Regions from separate parts of the Homo sapiens genome. Here regions 1, 3 and 4 are each linked to region 2. The links come from fine-mapping of genetic effects on gene expression. A gene starts in region 2. Each other region holds a variant in brackets. All regions are shown on one strand. Distances are from middle to middle. Region 1 holds the start of LOC105377490 (a long non-coding RNA gene). Region 2 holds the start of FBXW7 (F-box and WD repeat domain containing 7). Region 3 has its middle 19 kb from the start of TMEM154. Region 4 overlaps TMEM154 (transmembrane protein 154).

The links.
Region 1: its variant is fine-mapped to the expression of FBXW7 in CD4 T cells (Kasela 2017, PIP 0.95).
Region 3: its variant is fine-mapped to the expression of FBXW7 in whole blood (TOPMed, PIP 0.95).
Region 4: its variant is fine-mapped to the expression of FBXW7 in whole blood (INTERVAL, PIP above 0.99).

Annotation. Positions count from the first base shown.
Region 1 is chr4:152,223,844-152,229,043 of GRCh38, forward strand. LOC105377490 (a long non-coding RNA gene) reads right to left here and starts at 2,029. Exons shown (of 3, transcript NR_188450.1): 1 at 1,988-2,029; 2 at 1,401-1,607. The variant T/A (reference allele first, on the strand shown) is at 2,724.
Region 2 is chr4:152,533,726-152,538,725 of GRCh38, forward strand. It overlaps FBXW7 (F-box and WD repeat domain containing 7), which reads right to left and starts at 2,367. Exons shown (of 14, transcript NM_001349798.2): 1 at 1,402-2,367; 2 at 1,216-1,308. It overlaps MIR4453HG (MIR4453 host gene), which reads left to right and starts at 2,539. Exons shown (of 1, transcript NR_033797.2): 1 at 2,539-5,000. MIR4453 (microRNA 4453) reads left to right here and starts at 2,703; the gene lies at 2,703-2,791. RefSeq lists enhancers at 713-812, 2,062-2,597, 2,303-2,662 and a silencer at 1,403-2,192.
Region 3 is chr4:152,696,097-152,701,296 of GRCh38, forward strand. No RefSeq gene overlaps it. Among named protein-coding and RNA genes, the nearest start is that of TMEM154, 19 kb to the left of the region's middle. RefSeq lists enhancers at 838-1,067, 1,098-1,147, 4,619-5,130. The variant C/T (reference allele first, on the strand shown) is at 2,077.
Region 4 is chr4:152,647,015-152,652,214 of GRCh38, forward strand. The region is part of intron 3 of TMEM154 (transmembrane protein 154); the gene reads right to left. Among named protein-coding and RNA genes, the nearest start is that of TMEM154, 30 kb to the right of the region's middle. The variant A/G (reference allele first, on the strand shown) is at 2,504.

The DNA.
Region 1 (5,200 bases), 310 kb before region 2:
TCACTCAGCCCTTCTCAGCAGACTCAGGGCCTCGTGCTTGCTAAATATAATGGAATCTAGAAACAGTGTGCATGGAGCACCCTGTTTTTGTTTTAAGCTGAAAGAAACCCTAAGGCAGGTTAGGAGAAAGCAGCCTGCCCAGACCACAGCCGTTGCCTACGGATCAGAAAGAGGCCTGGGCTGGAGTGAGGAGCAGACCTTTCCCATGGAACCCAGGGTCACACCAACTCTGAGGAGCCCAGTGACCCACATGGGCCTGGGAAGGAAGTGGCCAGGATAGGCCAGCTGGGGACAGTGCCTGGCTCTCCACTTCTGCCCCATGGTGCCTCTGGGAGAGTGATCTCACCTCCTGTCCAAACCCCAGACTTCAAGTAGCTTCTCCAGCTTTTTTTTTTTACTATTAAAAAAAAAAGAGGAGAGAGAGAGCTGGGGAGAATTAGAGAAGGCAAAAGGTGGAGGGGCAGACAGGCTGGGCTAAACCGGCGAGCGTCCTGCCAGGGGTAGCTGTGCGGGAAAGGGCCTGAGGCTGGACGTTAGCTAGAGCTCTGCTGCGATGGAACAAAAATAAAGTCCCTTTTCTGCAGGGTGGGGGATTCCTGAAACAATGCCCATTGTGGACTTCTAAAGCCTGGCTGGGGCCCCAGCTTCTAAAAGGGGTTTTGAGTTGTAACAGCAACAACAACTCATTTGCTTTTCGTGGTGATCCCTAGGCCACCCTATCCTGATGGCCTGATCTTCAGGAGGACAAGGTGAACTGTTCCCCTTATCTCGCCTTGCTTGACAGGACAGGGTTAGCAGGAGGGGAATCAAGTTTAAGTTTTGTTTTGCTTTTTTTCCTCCCTTCTGGTATTTCCTACTGTACATGCTGCCAGAGGCGATGACAATGGTGGAAACTAATAAACTATATGTATAAGCTTTTCTTTCTGGTACAACAAACACAGGTTATGAGTTTCTCTGCCTCTTTTAATCATTGCTTAAAGTCTTTTCTTTTCCTTGCCTGTGGACTTCAGCACTTGCCTTGCTAAAGGCCTCTGCCTTTTGTTCTGGCCTGAAGCACAAACTTCAGTGGCAGCCTCCTTGTTTAGGGCATGCTTTCTCATCCTCTTTCTGTTTCCCCTTCCCTGTGTCTGTCCCTCCCTCCCCTTCCCTTCTCAGCACCCCACTCCCTCCCCCAAAACCAGTTTATTTGTTTGAAATTGCCAATACAGCATTTCCTACACTGACAGTGTAGGAAACCTGAGTTATGGATTCTGAGTTTCTAGTTTACTGCCCAAACGACTCAGGGCATTTATTTCATGGGCCTCTTCCAGGTGGAGCAGGTAGGGAGAGGTGCTAAATAACTGACTTGCCAGAGTGTGTTCATCGTACGAGTTCCCTCTGCGTCAACTAATGAGACTTACATAATTAAATGCGTGTAAATCTTCCCTGATTGGCGGTGTTGGTCCCTGGTTTGGGAATGTCAGAGAAGGCTGGCAGGTGGCATAGAAGGGAGGTGGGCTTGCCAGGTATCTGCATCCCTCTTCATGGCCTCCCTCTTCCAGGGATCTTCACTACTGCCTCCAAGGCTCCACCAGCCAGAGGACCAGGCCTCTGAGCCTCTCATGCCCCTGGGAGGAGAAAGGCAGGAAACAGAAATGGCCTTGCCTTATTCTGCATATCTAAAAGCAAATTACCTTAGCTCCAAACTAAAAAAAAAAAAATGCTTCTATATGTAAACAGCACCCATCAATCGCTGGTAAATTATTTCCTTCTCCCTTCACAAACACATATCCAGCCTTAATTCAGATAATCTTTGACTTAGAAGTAAGAACCCGCAGAAGGACTTTCAGATGTAGATTCCAGTAATTTTGCCACAGATTACTATAGGATGGTAGGTGACCTTCAACACAAATAATTCCTCAGTTTAGACTGAAACCACCAGAGAATATCTGAATAAACACAATGTTTGTCTCCAACAGCTCAGCTCTCTTTGGTTGCACCATCTCACCTGTAGCTGTGTTGTCGCTAAGCCCTGGCTGGGAGGAGAGAGCTGGATGGATCCATCTCTGCCTTGCTGTGTGGGATTGGGCAAGCCACTTTCCATCTGGGCCTGTGTTTCCTCAGCTGCAAATTAAAAATTAAACTGAATTATTTCTAAGATCCCTTCCATGTTTAAACTTCTATGAGCCTGAGATGAAATTTGACTACTAGTAACCAAGTCTATTAATGATTGTTAATCCCTACACATCCCCACAAGAATATGAGCTACTGGTGACTTCAATACTTTTATTAAATATATATATAATTGAAATATAATATATATGCAGAAAAACACATAAATGTACTGCTTGATGGGTCTTCCCAAACTGAACATACCCTGTGTAACCAACACCCTAATCCAGAGGCAGAACATTCCCGGCTCCCACAGAAATCCCTCACCCGCCACCTTTCCAGGCTCAGGTTCCATATTAATGCTTCATAAATAAATTTTGAGTCTACAACTACTCTACCTTCAATTCTGTTACTTAGGCAAATTCACAAATAGTCCACACCTGCATTGTAATAAACAATAGGGGACAAAATAAACAGTTCTAGGGAACTAGAAATGGTCCTTTATTACCCAGAGAAAGAGCTTGTCAAACACAGGAGATACACGAGAGCATGAATAAAACGAGAAATGGCTTAAAACATGACAATTGTGGCAGTGGTCAATAGCATTGATTCCTTGAGTGCTCCTGCCTAGA[T/A]GAGGAAATCAGTTCATTACTGAAAGGAAAATAACAGCATTTACACCCATTTCCAACACCAAACACACACACACACACACACACACACACACACACACACTGGCATGGTTCATTTCGGTCACTGAATATAACTCCTTCTTTTAGAGAAAAACAAATGTTTAGGGTTTCATGAGTCATACAAACGTATGCAAAGCACACTATAAAGACAATATAACCTCTATGAAGATTGATTTGTAATTCTCATATCAGTGTATTGAGGGGTCATTGATGGATTTGCTTTATATTCACCGGCCATGAAATCAAATCGTGGAGCCTGACTCTACCCTCTGGGATGGCCCAGAATCGGGAGGTGACTGGAGCTGAACTTTCCTTAGGTTGCTGGTATTTTCTCCTAGGTCAGGAGGAAGGGTAGGGATTTTAGATTTGGAAGGGTCTATAGAGGACCTGCAGTGCAAACCCTCTATTTTATAGATAAGCAGTTTGGACCCAGAACAGGGAAGGGAGTTGACCGGTCACCAGCCAGATGGTGGCAGGCCAGGGAACTCCTGTGCTCTTTCTGCTACCCCACGGGCCATCCCTGATCCCGTGTCCTGCTGTGGCAGCTCCTGGATGTGGAGTTACCTGCTATTCCCTTTCGCAGCATCAAAAGCAGGGGAGATGGGAGGAGCTGCCACTGGCGCCCACAGCCCTTCTCCTCTTGGCCTTGTGTGGTCAACTAAGACTGTCTTTTGCACGTTTTCCTTTTTGAATGTAGATTTAGGAAGTTAAGGTAACCTTATCCCCTAATTCCTGCCACTTCACCATCACCTCTCCATGCCAGTTCCCTCTCTTGTTTGGGGGAGGTCCTTGTTTTTCTCCTCTTCCATTCTAGCCCCTGTGTGCACCTGCTCCTCCCTGCAGGTGCCCTCTCTAATGAGTTTGATGCACACGGTGTCCTTGGTTGTCTGTGTCCTTGTAAAGTTTAGCTTGATGGGTGTAGAGGTTTCTAAATTACATCAATGATAGTGTGCTACAGACTTTTTTCTGGTTCTTTCTTGTTTTGCTCACCACCATGTGTTTGAGTTCTATCCATGTACGATATGCACATTGAGTTGAGTCCATCTAACTGCTATGATATATTCAATAGTGTCGAGGGCCATATTTTACATCTAAGCTCTCCTAATAAAGGGTGAATTTTGGCAATCTCCCCAGCTCCCCTCCTGATGGCCTTCCCTTTCTCCCTGGCTGCCCAATGCTTGGACCCTGTCCTTCCTGCCTCCAGGCTGTGCTTCCTCCCCACTGTGTGCTATTACTCTCTCTCTGCAGATTCCCAACTTTTTCTTTGCCAATTTCACACCTTCCCCTCAGTTTCACCAGCCAAACCTTCTGCACTGCTGGATATCAGATTCCACTTCCTCCACCAGGACTTTCCCGCTTCCAGCAGCCCTCAGCTTCTACACAGCCAGAACACACTTTGTCCATATTATTCTTTTTTGGTTCTTGATGATATCTTGCTTCAATTTGCTAGGTAACCTGAATAAATCCCAGAGCCCTACATGGTCCATTCTCAGCCCAGTAGCATGTTCGGAGAAACACAATCCAACAATTTAAATTAATTACTAATTCTTCACTTCTTTACTCCATTTCTCTAGCAAACATTAAAAGAAAGAGACAATGATCAATGCACAGCAAACACCATTGAAAACAAAATAAAGCAGCCAGGTGCAGTGACTCATGCCTGTAATCCCAGCATTTTGGAAGGCCAAGGTGGGTGGATCACCTGAGGTCAGGAGTTCAAGACCAGCCTGGCCAACATGGTGAAACCCCATCTCTACTAAAAAATACAAAAATTAGCTGGGCATGATGGTGGGTGCCTGTATGGTGGGCATGTATGGGTGTATGGGTGCATGTATGCCTGCTGCATGTATGTATGGGTGCATGTATGCATGGGTGCATGTATGGGTGTATGGGTGCATGTATGGGTGCATGCATGGCAGGCATGTATGCCTGTATGGGTGCATGATGGCGGGTGCCTGTATGGCGGGCATGATGGTGGGTGCCTGTAATCCCAGCTACTTGGGAGGCTAAGGTGGGAGAATCGCTTGAACCCAGGAGGTGGAAGTTGCAATAAGCTGAGATTGTGCCACTGCACTCCAGCCTGGGTGACAGATTAAGACTCTGTCTTAAAAAAAAAAAAAAAAAAGCTTCTCTCCCTATCACATCCTCTCTCAATATCTCTTGTATATTGAAGGCAAAAGTTATCCGCTCGGCTGTTTCAGCACCATCTTCCCTTTTGCTTTTTCCCCATACCAGAAATGGCCACCAACACTTTTCCTCTGCTCAGACGCTAAGCTGGGTCACACCAGGATAGGTGGACGAGGGGCAGCTTTGTTTCTCCGAGAGCTCCTTTCTTGTGAATGGACAAGCACAAAGACCCCTGGGAAAGCTAATTCTCTCCAACTATTTTTCTGTGGAACTCTGATGAATGTAGTTCTCTG
Region 2 (5,000 bases):
GAATATGTAAATGAACTGTCACATAATACACAGGCTAATAAACTTGCAGAACTCATTACTTTAAAAAAAAGGACCAAACATTGTTAAGTTTGAGAAAGTTTTAAATTAATCTAATCAAGATCCTGAATGGAGAACTTCGAAAAGAGAGATAACCCCAGGCTTACATTCATTCCCACAAAGTATCTCTCAGCAGTGGCTTCAGACAGAACGAGCCCACAGTTGTCTAGACGGACCACAATTCTCAGTATACTACTGTCTATGTCTTCTTACATAAAATTCTGCTCTATGTTTAACCCTTAAGGTCTGTATATGAAATATTAATTACTTTCATAAACCTTTAATTTGGTACTCTGACAAGATACCTAAAATACAAGTCAAAGGTTTTATAAACTTCAGCTTTAAAATAATGGAAGGAAAAAATCATTCCTGACTTAAATATCAAAGATGTATCCTAAATTGATACAGAAATAAAGATAATTCAAAAAAGCAAAGCCTCAAACCAAATAAAAAAGTGCTGTAATTTGTTACTCTAAAAAAAAAAAGGGGGGGGTGAAAGGGAAAAAATCACAACTTTTATAAAATGATTAATGTGATAAATGCTCTTCCCCAAGTAAGTTGTGATTCCTAACAACTCAAGTTCCTGAGTAACTGACATCTGTTACAGTGTCCTCCTGACACACATGAAATTGGACCCAGTAACTGAGAAGGTTAACTCCTGTACCAATAGGTACTGAAATGAACCTCTCTCAAAACAGGTTTGTTGTTGTTTTTTAAAAAAGGAATTTTACTTTCAGGGGTCCACAGGTTAAGTAGTTCTCATTCGGGAACCTATATGAGAGTACCCCCGAAACAAAAAGTACACCGCACACACCCACAGTACCAGGAAAAGGTTACAGATACAGATGGCCTCTGTGCGCACATATGCTCTGGCTTCCTCAATTTCCCTTTGCCAACTGCTGGCCAGAAAGGTGCGAGTATTCACTTTGGAGAAAAGACTCCTCCGACAGAAACCTGCATACTTGCATTACTCGTACAAAGAGCTAAAAAGTTACAAAATACAGGCCTCCCTAACACCTTCCCCCCTCCGTGAATAAAGCTAGACTCCCTCATTGATAGACTCCCAACACTACTGGAGAACATCAGCAAAACTCCAGGAGGAAGCGCCGGCATCCTCCCACTTTCTCCCCCTCAATTCCCTCTCCCGGGGCCACTCACACTTTTAGAAAAGAGCCGCGGCGCCGAGAAAGTGGGTTGGTTCCCTTCCTCCTTCGGACTGAAGCGGCAGCTGCGGAAGGCTCCGGCGCGGTACTGAGGAAGAAGCGGTGCTCGTGTCGCTAAACCAGGCGGCAACCCGGGTCTCTTCCGCGCTGCCAGGGGAGGGGAGGCGGCGGCCCCGCTTACCTCCTCTTTTCCTCTTCCTGGGTCTTTTCAGGCTGCGGCTTCTGCCCGTCCAGGGCCACTTCTCCCGGGACAGTCAGGTTTGGGAGACTCCGGATTTTGTTTTTGTAAAGTTTCCTCTGGGTGGAGGCTGCGGCCGGCCCCCCGGGTCCCCCCCGGCCCCGCCGCCCTCGGGACTGGGGCGGGGGAGGGGGGCTCTAGGAACTCCTCCCGGAGTCCAGCCAAGGAGCCGGGGGGCCGGCGACTGGCCAAGGGAGAAGACCCCCGGAGGGGGCTGAGGGGAGGGGGAAGGTGAGGAAAGGACGGCGGCGTCGGTCCTGTTCTCTCCGCCGCCCCAGCCGCCGCTTCACATCGGGGTCCCCGCCCCCCCGGCCGGGGGGTGGTTGCCGAGCTTGGTTGGGGCCCCGGTTCATACACTCCGGGGCAAGATGCTACGGCCCCGGGCGGGTGGCCGAGTCGGCGGCAAGGCGAGGGACCCGGCCGGCTCCGCTCGGCGCCGCCCCCGCTCCCGGCTCCCGCATGTGTCGCTGCGGCTGGGACCCCCCTCCCTACACCTTGGGGGTCTCGCCCCACGCCCCACGGGACGAGGCAGAAGCTCTGGCGCCTCCTCAGCGTTCTCTCACCGCGGAGCAGCTACCCACTCCCGGCCCGTGGTAGCCGCCTCCCTGCCCCCCAAGCCGCCGGCTCCGGCTCAGGCTCGGGCTCCGGCTCTGGCTCCGGCTCCGGCGTGTGCAGCCGCCGCTGCCGGCCGGGAAGGTGAGGGGGGGAAAGGAGTGCGGCCGCGGCTCCCGCTGGCCCAGGTGAGAGCGAAGGTCTCGGCGGCGGCCAGTGCAGGGGGACTGGATCTCTCGGATGCTCCTTCGCTCTCAGTCTCAGCGGCGGCGGCGGCGGCAGCGGCAGCGGCAGCGCCCGGAGCTCAGCTCGCTGTCTCCCTCGCTCTGTGCGGGGCTCTCGCCTCACTCCAGAGAGAGGGGCGGGAGGAGAGCGGCGCCTGCCGATGACGCAAGTCACCTAGCAACCGCTCTCTTCCCCCTCCCTCTTCTTTCCGCTCTGAGGCTTCCTCCGCTGGCCTTTTTCCCCCTTCCAGCCACCCCGCCCTGGGCGCCTCTGGCGCGCTCTGATGACGCTCCAAGGGAAGAGGAAGTGGGGATCGGCGAGCGGGTGGGTGCGCCTCGGGCCGCGGGACTCGCAGCCGCCACCGCCGCTGCCGCCTCTACGGCCGCGTCAGAACTGAAGAGAGGAAGGGGAGGAGCCGAGTCGAGCCTAAGCTGCCGCCCGATCTTACCCCTGACCCGAGGGCGGCCTGGAGAGCTTGGTCTGTAGCGGTTTCCTTCGGGGCAGGTGGGGACTGCTCCTTTGGGAGGAAGGAGGAGGCCCAGGCCGCGTCTTCAGGCAGCTGCGCGCACCACCCGAAGGTGAGGCATTTGGCCCCAAACAGACCCTCGAAAAGCCGGACTGATCGAGGAGTTACCCTACAGCCTGATCTGCACCTGCTCCAGGGAGAGAGCGCCCCACCCTTCCCGTGGCGTGGGGTGAGACCCAGCGTTGGATAACGTGTGGTCGGGCCGAGCAAATGTTTGATGAATGAATGAATGAATGAATGCCTCTCTCACGTGGCACTCGTGAAGCTCAGAGGATATGGTGGAAGTGCAAGCGCTTTGTAAACTGCAGTGCATTGTAAAAATGAGTTGTAATACATTCCTCCCCTCCCCCTAGCCATGAAAGGAAACAGGGGTGCGGCTTGAGTACAGAGTCACAACCTGAGTCTTTAGTGGAAAAGGAGACGAAATGCCGAGCAAGGGAAGGGACCCATCCTCGCGCAGATTGTTAGGGCGGCGGGAAGGGAGGATTGGAAGGGAGCCATCCTCTGGGAGATTGCTGAAGGATTTTTGACTGTCAGGGGAAGAATTTAATAGTCCCTCACTTTTACGAATGGTTCTTTCTTACGGTTTGGAGCTTTCGAGAGCTTCTGGTCTTGGTTCATCAGTGTACGTTGTCATCAAGAAATGTTGGCCTGTTTCAGGTCTGACTCAAAGGTTATTTTCTTTCTAAAATAAGTGTTATTACTATTATGCAGCTTTTCCTACAGATGTTATCCTGGAAAGGAAAGTTAAGTAGAAACTCATGAAGTTTAAAGTGTAGTTCTCTAGGAAAACAAATTTAAGATAAAAGGACCAGAATCCTCAGAAATCTGTCTTCAGTGAATAGTATGAGAAAAAGATTAAAGCAGCAGCAATGATGAAAGCAGATTCCACAATTCTGTCCCTGGACCCTAGTACACTCTACCTCCTTGGGAAGCAGTAGTAATGGATTTTACAAGTCTTTCCACCTGGAGGAGGGGGTAAGGTAGGAGCAAGTGTATTATAGACAAATGTGGGAAGCTCTGGGTTTCTCCCACTACTGCCACTACCATCTGCAAACAGTAAACTAAGGAAACTTTTAACTGGGTAAATCCAAGGGCTCGTGTTCATTAAAATGCTGCGGGAAAGGTGGTGAGAGGGGCAAAGGAGGATGTGGCAAAACCAAGGAGAGACTCACAGACTAGCACCTGACCCTACTGCCCTTGACCTGAAGTTCCAAGAGCCAGGTTAAATATCCTGCTTAAATTACCCTGGATTTTTCTGTCTTTACGTGACCAATCCCCTGCTACAGCCTTCCAAATAAGACTCACAGGTAATCAGACCAACAAGTGATGGTCTCACATGGCTACAAAATAAATATTTTTTGTTTTTCCCCCTCTTCCTATCTTACAACAGGGGAATGGTGGAAATTAAAGGAGTAAAACACACAGATTTAGGGGATTTTGTGAAGCTAAACACCTCAGAGAGTTTAACCTTTGTAGGCTTTGAAGGAAAAGAGTGCAAACATCAGAGTTCTGCAGCCCAGCAGAGAACACCTCCAGTTAAGTGTGTACCACATAGGGTTTTTCAGCAGCGTGATCTTCTGTTTTCATTGTCAGTGGCTCCACCTTACAACCTCAGTGCTGAGGAACAGAAGGGCACTCAGGAGAGCCTGAGCCACTTACTTAGAAAGTATTTAATAACAGCACACTAAGCTTACTGGGCTAGATACCCACCTCAGCACCCAGCTTGATAACAGGAGGAAACAGCTGGAACTGGAGACTGGAGAGAAGGAAGTTCATACATTTCCAACTTGGTCTGCATCTCTTTAGTTCCTTGTATTGCTTATTAATCCAGAGGAGAAAACAGCTAGTTAATTAAAAATTCCAAAAAATCTGAAGTTTTAGCTAATAGTTACTTCCCTGGTTCATCAATTTAAGATAAGGATCTAAATACTGTGTTAAAATATAGAAAAACGGAGACTCTTATAAGGTTTTTGACCTCTACACTTGAAAGTGAGCTCTTACAAGAAACTAATCAGTGTTTCGTTATTCCATATCAGTGGCTTTTACTGTCAAAGATTGTGTAAGCTAAATTATCTGGCAAAATTTTGCTTTCCAGAAATACTATCTATATTAATTTTAACATTTTTATTGTGAAATATAGTTTAAATACATAAAGCAATTATATAGTATAAGTGATTATAAAGGAAACCACCATGTAACCAATCAACCAGGTCAAGAAATGGAATATTTCCAGCAA
Region 3 (5,200 bases), 160 kb after region 2:
CCCGCTAAGCCTCACCTGAACCAGCAGACACAAATATTGTTCCTGAGGTGTCTTCCTACCTCAAGGCTCAATTGAGCTGAACTTCCCTAGAAATGACAAAGCAAGATACAAGAGAGATGGGCCCTAACAGACCAGTGAGCAGCCATGGCGGTTTAACAGACAAAAAGAGGATGGAGGGGGCTGGGAGAGAGGGCGACCACCTGTCCTGGTTTGCCTAGTTCCAAGGGCTAAAACTGAGACAGTCCTGAACAGTCCTATGACCAAGCACAGCTTTGTGTCTTGCAGGAGACGACACTTTCATGTGGGTCTATGAGACCTCATTGAACACAAGCATTTTATATTTTATTTGTTTTGTGAGCATGCTAAGAGTTAATTTTCCAATTTTCTTTTTTCTTTTTTTTAATTAAACAATAGATGTGTCAACCATCGAAAAACTTAAATATTCAGAGAAGCAAGAAAAAAACAAATGAAATCACTTGTAATCTCACTTTCCAAGGAAAATTACTTTTAAGATACTGGTGTTTCTCCTTCCAATCTTTTTATGAGCATTTATTCTAAATATCTGTGCAAATATAAATATATTAAATTTACTTTCTATTTAGGAAATCAAAGAAGTTGGGAGAATAGAAAAGATCATTAGACACAAACAAAAGATGGTACACAAAGGGAAATGAAAATAAAACATGAATGACAAGAGAAGTTAGGGTAAAACTGATCCACACCAGTGCTTCTCCAGGAGCCATAGCCTTGATCTGAGGCATCAGGGCAGTGCTTTGTCCGTGGAGTGTGCTAGAACCATGAGGTCATCCTCTCTGATGGTGGTCACCCTCTCTGATGGTTCTATTACTTTTAATTGCAAAAACAGCAATTGCTTTTGCACCAGCCTAATAAGTATATGCTGGGCTCCAGAACTGAAGAGGACTGAACGTCATAGGAGGCTGTGGCTAAAGAAACTGGAAATGGTTCAGAGAAGAGAAACCAAGATGACTAATAAAGGGGAGCACAATGAAGCCTTTGAGCAGAGGTGAAAGAAAGCACAACTGTGCGGCCGGAAAGAAAGGAGGGCTGAGACAACGTAATACCATTCATGTAGATGAGGGGTGTGCACCTCTAAGGGGTGACTTGCTGTTCTCTATTTTCACTGAGGACTGAAAAAGGAGAACAAATAATAAACATTACTCTGTATGTCTAAGGGTTTTTTACTTTGCCAGAATTTTTTTTTTTCCCAGTGACTGATATCATCCTTACATTTTGAGATACTGACTGTCCTTGCACAGGGATTTAGGTTTGCATAGGAGAAACTACCACGGTGGCTGTTAAAGCATCCAGTGAGATTTTCCAAGGAGGGCACAGACTCTTCTTTCAATGATCAAAATAGAACCATTCTTCATCACATAGGGATGCTTTCTACATTGCCCTGCCTAAGAACCAAGAATAGTAAGTATACATTCCATTTCTAGAATACATTAATTGAATGTCTTTCTCCTTTCTAAACTCATTGGGCCTGTGAAACAATCATTTGAGGTCACGAGGAAGATATTATCTTCCCATTGTCCAGGTGAGAAAATGAAGGTTTAGAGGAAGGAAGTGACCTGCCCAAGGCCCCACAGTGAATGGTAAGCTAGAGTATATTCCAGATCTAGGGATTCTGGGTTTCCAGGACTCTTGCCACACTAGTCAATCTCTGAGATCAGAATCACCTGCAGGGCTTGTTGAAACACGGATTGCTGGATCCAGCCCCAGAGTTTCTGATTCTGTAGGTCTTGGGTGGGGCCTGAGAATTTGCATTTCCAACAAGCTCCAGGTAATGCTGCTGCTGTCTGGGAACCACACTCTGAGAATGACTGTGTTATACCACACCTGCCAGCCAACTAGAGCTGTGAAAGGAAAACACTTCAGTAAGACCTCAAACCCAGAGAATTTTCATTCAGACCTCAGACTCAGAGAAGTTTTATTTAACTTGAAAAATCATCTGCATGAAACTCACTAATTTCTGACCACCTTCCAAGCAACTGGCCCCTGTGTTATCAGAACACATTAGCACACAAGTCCACTCACAGTGCAGAGTCCAAGCCT[C/T]GCTTCCACACACTTTCCCAGAGCAATACAACCCAAAGAGGTAGAAGTGGAGCAGGGGAACTAAGAAATATTGAGCACTTATTCTATGACAGGCAGTGTTCAGAGTCTTGTATAACTCCTTATTTTATGTTTACAGTCACTCTGATAGAGAAACAATTATTCCCATTTTACAGAGGAAGAAATTGAGGCTCAAAAGGGTTACACAACTTTCCTAGGAAAACAACTAGAATATTCAGCTTCCAAACTATATATTTTTTTGACATCACAGATTCAACTATTTTAGATCCATTCCCTAACTTGTATTCTATCCACCCTAATTTTTAGCCCCTTAGCACATTTCTCTCCCCCATTCTTCAGGGTTAGTGAGCCTCCCGTCTTCAGCCTATGGGCATTGCACTTAATTTCTTTCTAATTCATAAAGCTCTTTTCTGAACTTTGGTGCCAGAATCATTTAGGACTTATTGGTTGTCTATTTAGCTTGATGCAAAGACCTAACCTAGAGGGAATTAGTTGGGTAAATTGTGGCACATCCTTATGCTGTTGTACATGGACATAAAAAATGGTTGTGATATATTTGAATTTTATTTTATTTTATTTTTACTTGTCTTTGTCAGGCAATATATTTGAATTTTAAAAAGCAAGTTACAATCATGCACAGTGTACTACTTTTTGTTAAAAAAAAAAAAAAACCACATGCATGCAAAAATGCACATTCACACATTGCAACCTACACAGCCTAGAAGAGTATACACCAAAATGTGAGCAATGATGAACTCAGAGTGGTGAAATTATGGGTGACTTTTACATTTTCTTTATTTTGTTTTTCTAAATGTTATGATTTTTCTTTTCTTTTTTTTCTGTCTCTTTATTAGAGACAGAGTTTCACCATGTTGCCCAGGCTGGTCTCAAACTCCTGAGCTCAGGCCATCCATCCACCTCAAACTTCCACACTGCTGGGATTACAGGTGTGAGCCACCATGACTGGACAAAATGTTATGATTTTTCTTGATAGATATGTGTAAGAAGCTTCTTCACCTGCCTTAAACTTCTTATCCTTCTCTCTTCACACTGAGTTCTTTACAAGCTCCTGGTGTTTATTCTCCTAATTAAATATTTAGTTCTATATTCTTCTCTATGCAAGAAAAGAAGAGTTCTTTGGGAGCAGGAAGGAAAAAAACATCCTCCCACCTATGTCCAATTCAAGGAGAAAACAAGCTGGCTACCAAAACTCCCCTGGGGCTCGTGTTTTCTATGCATGGTGAGAACACTATTCAAGGACGTCTAAGAACTGAGCATATATAATAATTATCTCTTTAGGGTTCTTAGGCTCTGCAGGGCATGCATAAGAGTGGAATACACCAACTCATAAATCTAAATGATTTATAACAACATTATATATACCACAATAAATACTTAAAGAAATAAATGAACAAAACTTAGACTTTGCAGTAGTGCTTTAAAAACATTCAAAAATTAATAGCTACAGTTCGAAGCCCTAGATAGAGTAGTAAATTCTCTATCCGTGTAAGTCTTCTAGAGACCCTGGTACAGTGAAGGCTCAAAGCTGTGCAGGTTGGAAGGAGGATTCTGCAGTGTTAAGCCAGGGCCCTTTGGAATGAGCCTCAGGTCCAGGCCTTTTCCAGTGGAGATCTTTCTCCAGCAGAACACAAACCATCAGGTGAATGACCTGGGTTGGGGTAAATTCATTCGGTCACACCCCATGCCTTGGGCCAAACCATGCACCCAGTTAAAGGGAATGGGTGGCTATTTCTGTATCCCCAAGAATAAAACCAACTGTGACCTCTAATGCTATTGGGGCTAGAAAGGGAAGAAATATGCCTTCTTTCATGTGAATTCATGTAAGGGATGAGGATGGGGAATCATTCACTGAGCAAAGATAATTATTTGCAACTAGAACATCCCTAAGCCTGCAAATAAATCTTCAGAATAAGACCATGAGAGTAAAAGCAATTTCTGGCCCAGGTCTCATGCCCTAAGCACTTCACCTAGACAATCCTCCTGAGAAAAACAAAAAAGTCACTCCTTCCCTAGGCCTGCTGGTTCTGGCCTGGAGGCTGGTTGCTTAAACCAATGATTGTTTTCTAGAGAGCTGTCAGGGAGAGCAAAAGTAATGAAATCATTTCATGTTCTTTATCTGGGAGAGTCAGCCTGTGGCATTCTCAGCACTTCTCTTGAGCTGTATCTATCACTGTCAGACTGTCTTGTGGGAGTGGGGCATGCAGATTAAAAATGACTTCACAGCCCCTCCCTCGCAGGTTAGGGAGCATGACATCTATTGGCAGCTGGGCATCTGATGGCTGAGAGCCAGGCACCACATTGCTACATTTCCACTGGGTCCTTGCTGAAAATATTTCTCCTGAATAATATCTTGGCCCTAATGTTGAACCAACTCCATCCCAGACTCACATCCTCTCTGAGATGATCTTTTGGTGATCTTCCACTCTCCACTGTAGCTTTTCTTCCTACCGCAAATTCAACACTGTAGCAGATTTCCCATGGTGTATTGTTATCGGGGGACCTGCCCCGATAATCACGTAGGTTCTTTTCTATTTTCCTAAGCGTCGACTGGCTTGAGAAATAAAAGGACAGAGTACAAAAGAGAGAAATTTTAAAGCTGGGCGTCCGTGGGAGACATCACACATTGGTAGGATCCGTGATGCCCCACAAGCCACAAAACCAGCAAGTTTTTATTAGGGATTTTCAAAAGGGGAGGGAGTGTGCGAATAGGTGTGGGTGACAGACATCAAGTACTTAAAAGGGTAATAGAATATCAAAAGGCAAGTGGAGGCAGGGCGAGATCACAGGACCACAGGACTGAAACGAAATTAAAATTGCTAATGAAGTTTTGGGCACCATTGTCATTGATAACATCTTATCAGGAGACAGGGTTTTGAGATCAACCGGTATGACGAAAATTTATTAGGCGGGAATTTCCTCTTCCTAATAAGCCTGGGAGCGGTATGGGAGACTGGAGTTTATTGCACCTCTGTAATCTCGACCATAAGAGACAGGTACGCCCCGGGGGGCCAGTTCAGAGACCTACCCCTAGGTGCGCATTCTCTTTCTCAGGGACGTTCCATGCTGAGAAAAGGAATTCAGAGAT
Region 4 (5,200 bases), 110 kb after region 2:
ATCACGTTACTACATCATGTTTCCCTTTCCCTGAACATGAAATGGACAAGCCCAAAGGAAAAAGTAATTTCCAATCAGATGAAGTGTTCTAAAAGTTTTGGCCAAGTCCTCTCCCATTGTCAAATTTAAAGACTTATTTCCTAGTATAGTATAACAGACCAGGCTCTACCCAAGTGCAGTAAGAAACAGTATGTCTGCTTCTAACTTCCCAGGGGACATAGTGTGCAGGTGTCCATGCTCTCCTATAAAGCATTTCTGTGGGAGCTTTCCAAGCAAAACGCTGGTATGACCTTCCATGATAGTTGTATTTTACCTGAAAAAAAATCAAATTTTGCTCATGTAAATATTCTGCTTTTATTAACTTTTAGCATTCAGTTTTTCTGAAAAGTTGTCCATCTGTTAAGCAGTTAGTGATCACGTCTGTGTTAAAGCATTGGCTGATAAGAGAAAAAAATTCAAATAAAACTCTCCATCAAAAACTTTTGTGATAAGCCAATTGTTTTGAAATGCTAAGTTTTCTCTGTTGTTTTTTTTAAAGTTAGGCATATTTAAGGTAAAAATAATGTACCAATTTTTAGTAAGGATAATGTACAAATTTGACTTTCCCTCTGAGCGTAGATGTTCTTTAATAAACATTCTAATGTTCTTTAATTAAGTCACTTATTCAACAAACATATACAAGCAGCTAGTGTGTGTTGGGCTAGGCGTTGAGTTAGGTAAAGGGATGATAATAAGCTAGCACTTAGCACTTATGCCAGGTACTGATTTTTTCTAAGTGATTTGCCTATATAAACCATTTAATTCTCACAACTCTATGAGGTGGGTATTGAATTTGCCCATTTTACAGATGAAGAAACTTAATCAGAGAGTCACGGTGCCAGGAAGTGCAAGCCAACCAAGCAGTGTGTGTGGTTTGAGTCTGGACTCTCAACCTCAATGCCACACTGTCACACAAGACAAATAAGACTAGCTCTTGGTTCTCCTGGACCTTAACGACCACATCACCCAGAAAGAAAAGAAGAAAAAAGAGAAGGAAGGAAGGAAGGGAAACAAGTCACCAACTTATGACAATGTGAATACTGTGAACAAAGAGTGTGAACAAAGTATTCTGAGAGCACAGAAGAGATGGTAATTAATTTTTCCTAGGGGAGGATTATTCAAGGCTTCCTAAAAACTGGGCCCTAGCAGGGGGGCGTGGTGGCTCACACCTGTAATCCCAGTGCTTTGGGAGGCTGAGGTGGGAGGATCACTTGAGCCTAGGAGTTTGAGACTTGCCTGAGCAACATAGCAAGACTCCATCTCTACAAAACGTTTTTTAAAAATGTCAAAAACTACTCAGGCATGGTGGCACAGGCCTGTGGTACCAGCTACTCTGTAGGCTGAGGTGGGAGGATCACTTGAGCCCAGGAGTTTGAGGCTGCAGTGAGCTATGATTGTGCCACCGCATTCCAGCCGGGGTAACAGAGCAAGGCCCTGTCTCTTAAACAAAACAAAAACAGACCTGGGCCCTGGAAAAAGGGATGGCAGTTTGCCAAGCAGACAGGAAGAAAATTCCAGACAGAAGAAATGGTATCAACCAGGCATGGAGGCATCCTGAAAGTCAAGTCAAGTTCTGGGAATAGCAAATACTTCAAGTGTTGTTAGAGTGGAGGATGCATGGACCATGTCTGAGGTTGAGGCTGGCTCTCGCTTGTAAATGGCTTTTGAACCTTGAGACTTTCACAATGAAATTCAATGAAAAATCAATTTCTGGATTTGGAGCCTAAGAGCCTCACCATGTGAGTGGATACCTCCAACATCCCCCCACCCCTTGAGTCCATTAGGTAAAACCAGTCATGGTTTGGGGAAGGAAATTATGACTTTTCCTGAATTTTAAAAAATTTAAAAAGCTCTGTTTGCTTTTTTTTCTTAAGCTTAGAAAGAAGCCTCCATATGACCATGTTATTAGGAAGTCCTGAAATTTCAAGCAGTGGAGAAACATGTATTTCCCACTTCTTTGGAATCTATTATATGGGCCTCTGCCATGAAAGGAAATACTCTTCGGGGCTTCTTCCCCAGCTCACATTTGCCTCATCTGCTGACTGTGAAAGATTCCTCTGGCACAGAGACAGTGAGGTGGGCATGTGGGACAAGGGCATGGCCCCAAAGCCAGAGGTGCCCTGTCATGGGTGTGAGGGACATAAAGTGAGTTTTGTATACATGTATGACTATGTATTGTATTAGAGACGTTCCTATCCTTTGAGTAACTTTTTGGAAAGACTATAAAGGCTTTAACTTAAAAATCGAATCCGAGCGAGTTTTACTGGCACAAGCCAAAAGTACCCAAGTCTGCTTTAGACCTAGAACTACCCTGACTCCTAGCACGTGATGCTCCTTGAATCACAACTGAATACTCTCAAAGTGGGTCTCTGACTGAGGGAATTTTCTATAATTGGTTTTCGGATTGATGTTAGTAATCTTTAGACAGTTGAAGAATTTGATTATAAAAGTTAGCATAGCTTCA[A/G]TGGGAATAAGAACAATGCTTCCTCCAGGACTTTTCAAGATCAAATTGGGATGTGGGGTGGGGGAGAAAATAAAATCTGTAACAGAAATATAGATGAAAGAATGCTCTTCTGGTGGTGATGACCCCAAGGCCTCTAGCCTTCCCATCCCTAACCCTAATCTGACTCACTCCTTGATCAGCCTTTCTCTTTCCCCAGTGATGGGAAATGTTATACTGGCTTATTGGCTAAAATTATACAGGATCCTCATCTGGATTAGGGTCAAAGATGGCAGCAGTAGAAAAGCATCCCCCAGAAATATGCAGGTTCAGGTCCAGACCACTGCAATAAAGTGAGTATTGCAATAAAGCAAGTCACATTAATTTTTTAGTTTCCAAATGCATAAAAAGTTATGTTTTTCCTACAATGTAACCTATTAAGTGTGCAACATTGTGTCTACAGAGACAATGTATATACCTTAATTTAAAATACTTCATTGCTAGAAAATGCTAACGATCATCTGAGCCTTCCGCAAGTTGTAATTATTTTTCTGGCGGAGGGTCTTGCCTTGATGTTGATGGTTGCTGACTGATCAGGGTGGTGGTTGCTGATGGTTGGGAAGGCTGTGGCAATGTCTTAAAGTAAGATCACAATGAAATGTGTCACATTGATTGACTCTCTTTCACAAAGATTTCTCTGTAGCATACAATGCTTTGTTTGATAGCATTTTATCTGCAATAGAATTCTTTCACAATTGGAGACGATTCTCACAAAACCTGCCGCTGCTCTACCAACTATGTTTATGGAATATTCTAAATCCTCTGTTGTCATTTCAACAATGTTCATGGCATCTTCACTAGGAGTAGATTCCATCTCAAAAAAAAAAACAAAACTCTTTGTTCATTCAGAAGAAGCAATTTCTCAGCCACTTAACGTTTTATCATGAGATTGCAGCAATTCCATGGCATCTTCAGGCTTCACTTCTTATCCTAGTTCTCTTGTTCTTTCTACCACATCTGCAGTGACCCCTCCACTCAAGTCTTGAACCCCTCAAAGTCATTCATGGGTCTTGGAATCAACGTCTTCCAAAATACTGTTGATGTTGATATTTTGATCTCCTCCTATGAATCGGAAATGTTCTTAATGGCATCTAGAATGGTGAATTCTTCCCAGAAGATTCCTTCCCAGATTTATCAGAGGACTCACCATCTATGGCAGCTATGGCCTTACAAAATGTATGTCTTAAACAATAAGACTTGAAATTCAAAATGACTCCTTAATCCATGGGCTGCAGAATGGATATTGTATCAGCAGGCATGAAAACGTTAGTCTCCTTGTACATCTCCACCAGGCCTCTTGGGTGACCAGGTGCATTGTCAATGAGCAGTAATATTTTTAGTGGAATCTTGTATTTTGAGCAGTAGACCTTAACAGTGGACTTAAATTATTCAGTAAACCATGCTATAAACAAATGTGCTAACATCCAGGCTTGGTTGTTCCACTTACAGAGCACAGGCAGAGTAGATTTAGCATAATTCTTAAGAGCTGTCAGATTTTCAGAATGGTAAACAAGAATTGACTTTAAGTCACCAACTACATTAGCTTCTAACAGGAGAGTCAGCATATCTTTTGAAGCTTTGAAGCCAGGCAGTGATTTCTCCTCTCTAGCTATTAATAGTCCTAGATGGCATTTTTTTTTTTTTTTTAAGTAGGGACAGGGTTTCACCATGTTAGCCAGGCTGGTCTCAAACTCCTGACCTCAAATGATCTGCCTCAGCTTCCCATAGTGCTGAGATTACAGGCGTGAGCCACCATGCCCAGTCAGATGGCATCTTCTTCCAACAGAGGACTGTTTCATCTACATGGAAAATCTATGGTTGAGTGTAGCCACCTTCATCAACGATTTGAACTAGGTCTTCTAGATAACTTGCTGCAGCTCCTACATCAGTCCTTGCTGCTTCATCTTGCACTGTTATGTTATAGAAATGGCTTTTTCCCTTAAACCTCATGAAACACCCTCTGCTAGCTTCCAATTTTTCTTCTGCAGCTTCCTCACCTCTCTCAGCCTTTGTAGAATTAAGGAGAATTAAGGCCTTGCTCTGGATTAGGCTTAGGCTTAAGAGAATGCTGTGACTGGTTTGATCTTCTACCCAGACCACTGAAACTTTCTCTATATCAACAATAATACTGCTTTGCTTTCCTATCATTGTATGTTCACTGAGTAGCACTTTTAGTTTCCTTCAAGAACTTTTTCTTTGCATTTACAACTTGGCTAAATGTTTGGCACAAGAGGCCTGGTTTTCAGCCTATCTCAGCTTTCAACTTGCCTTCCTCACAAGGCTTAATCATTTCTAGCTTTTCACTTAAAATGAGAGATATGTGACTCTTCTTCCATTTGAACACTTACATGCCATTGTAGGGTTATGAATTGGCCTAATTTCAATATTGTTCTGTATCAGGGAATAGAGAGGCCTGAAGACAGGGAGAGAGACAGGGAATGGCTTGTTGGTGAAGCAGTCAGAACACACACAATGTTTATCAATTAAGTTCACTGTCTTCTGTGAGCATGGTTTCAGGCACTCCAAAACAATTACAACAGTAATATCAAAGATAACTGATCACAGATCACCATAACAGGCATAGTAGTATTGAAAACATTTGAAATATTGTGAGAATTATCAAAATGTAATGCAGAGACACAAAGTAAACATGTGCTGTTG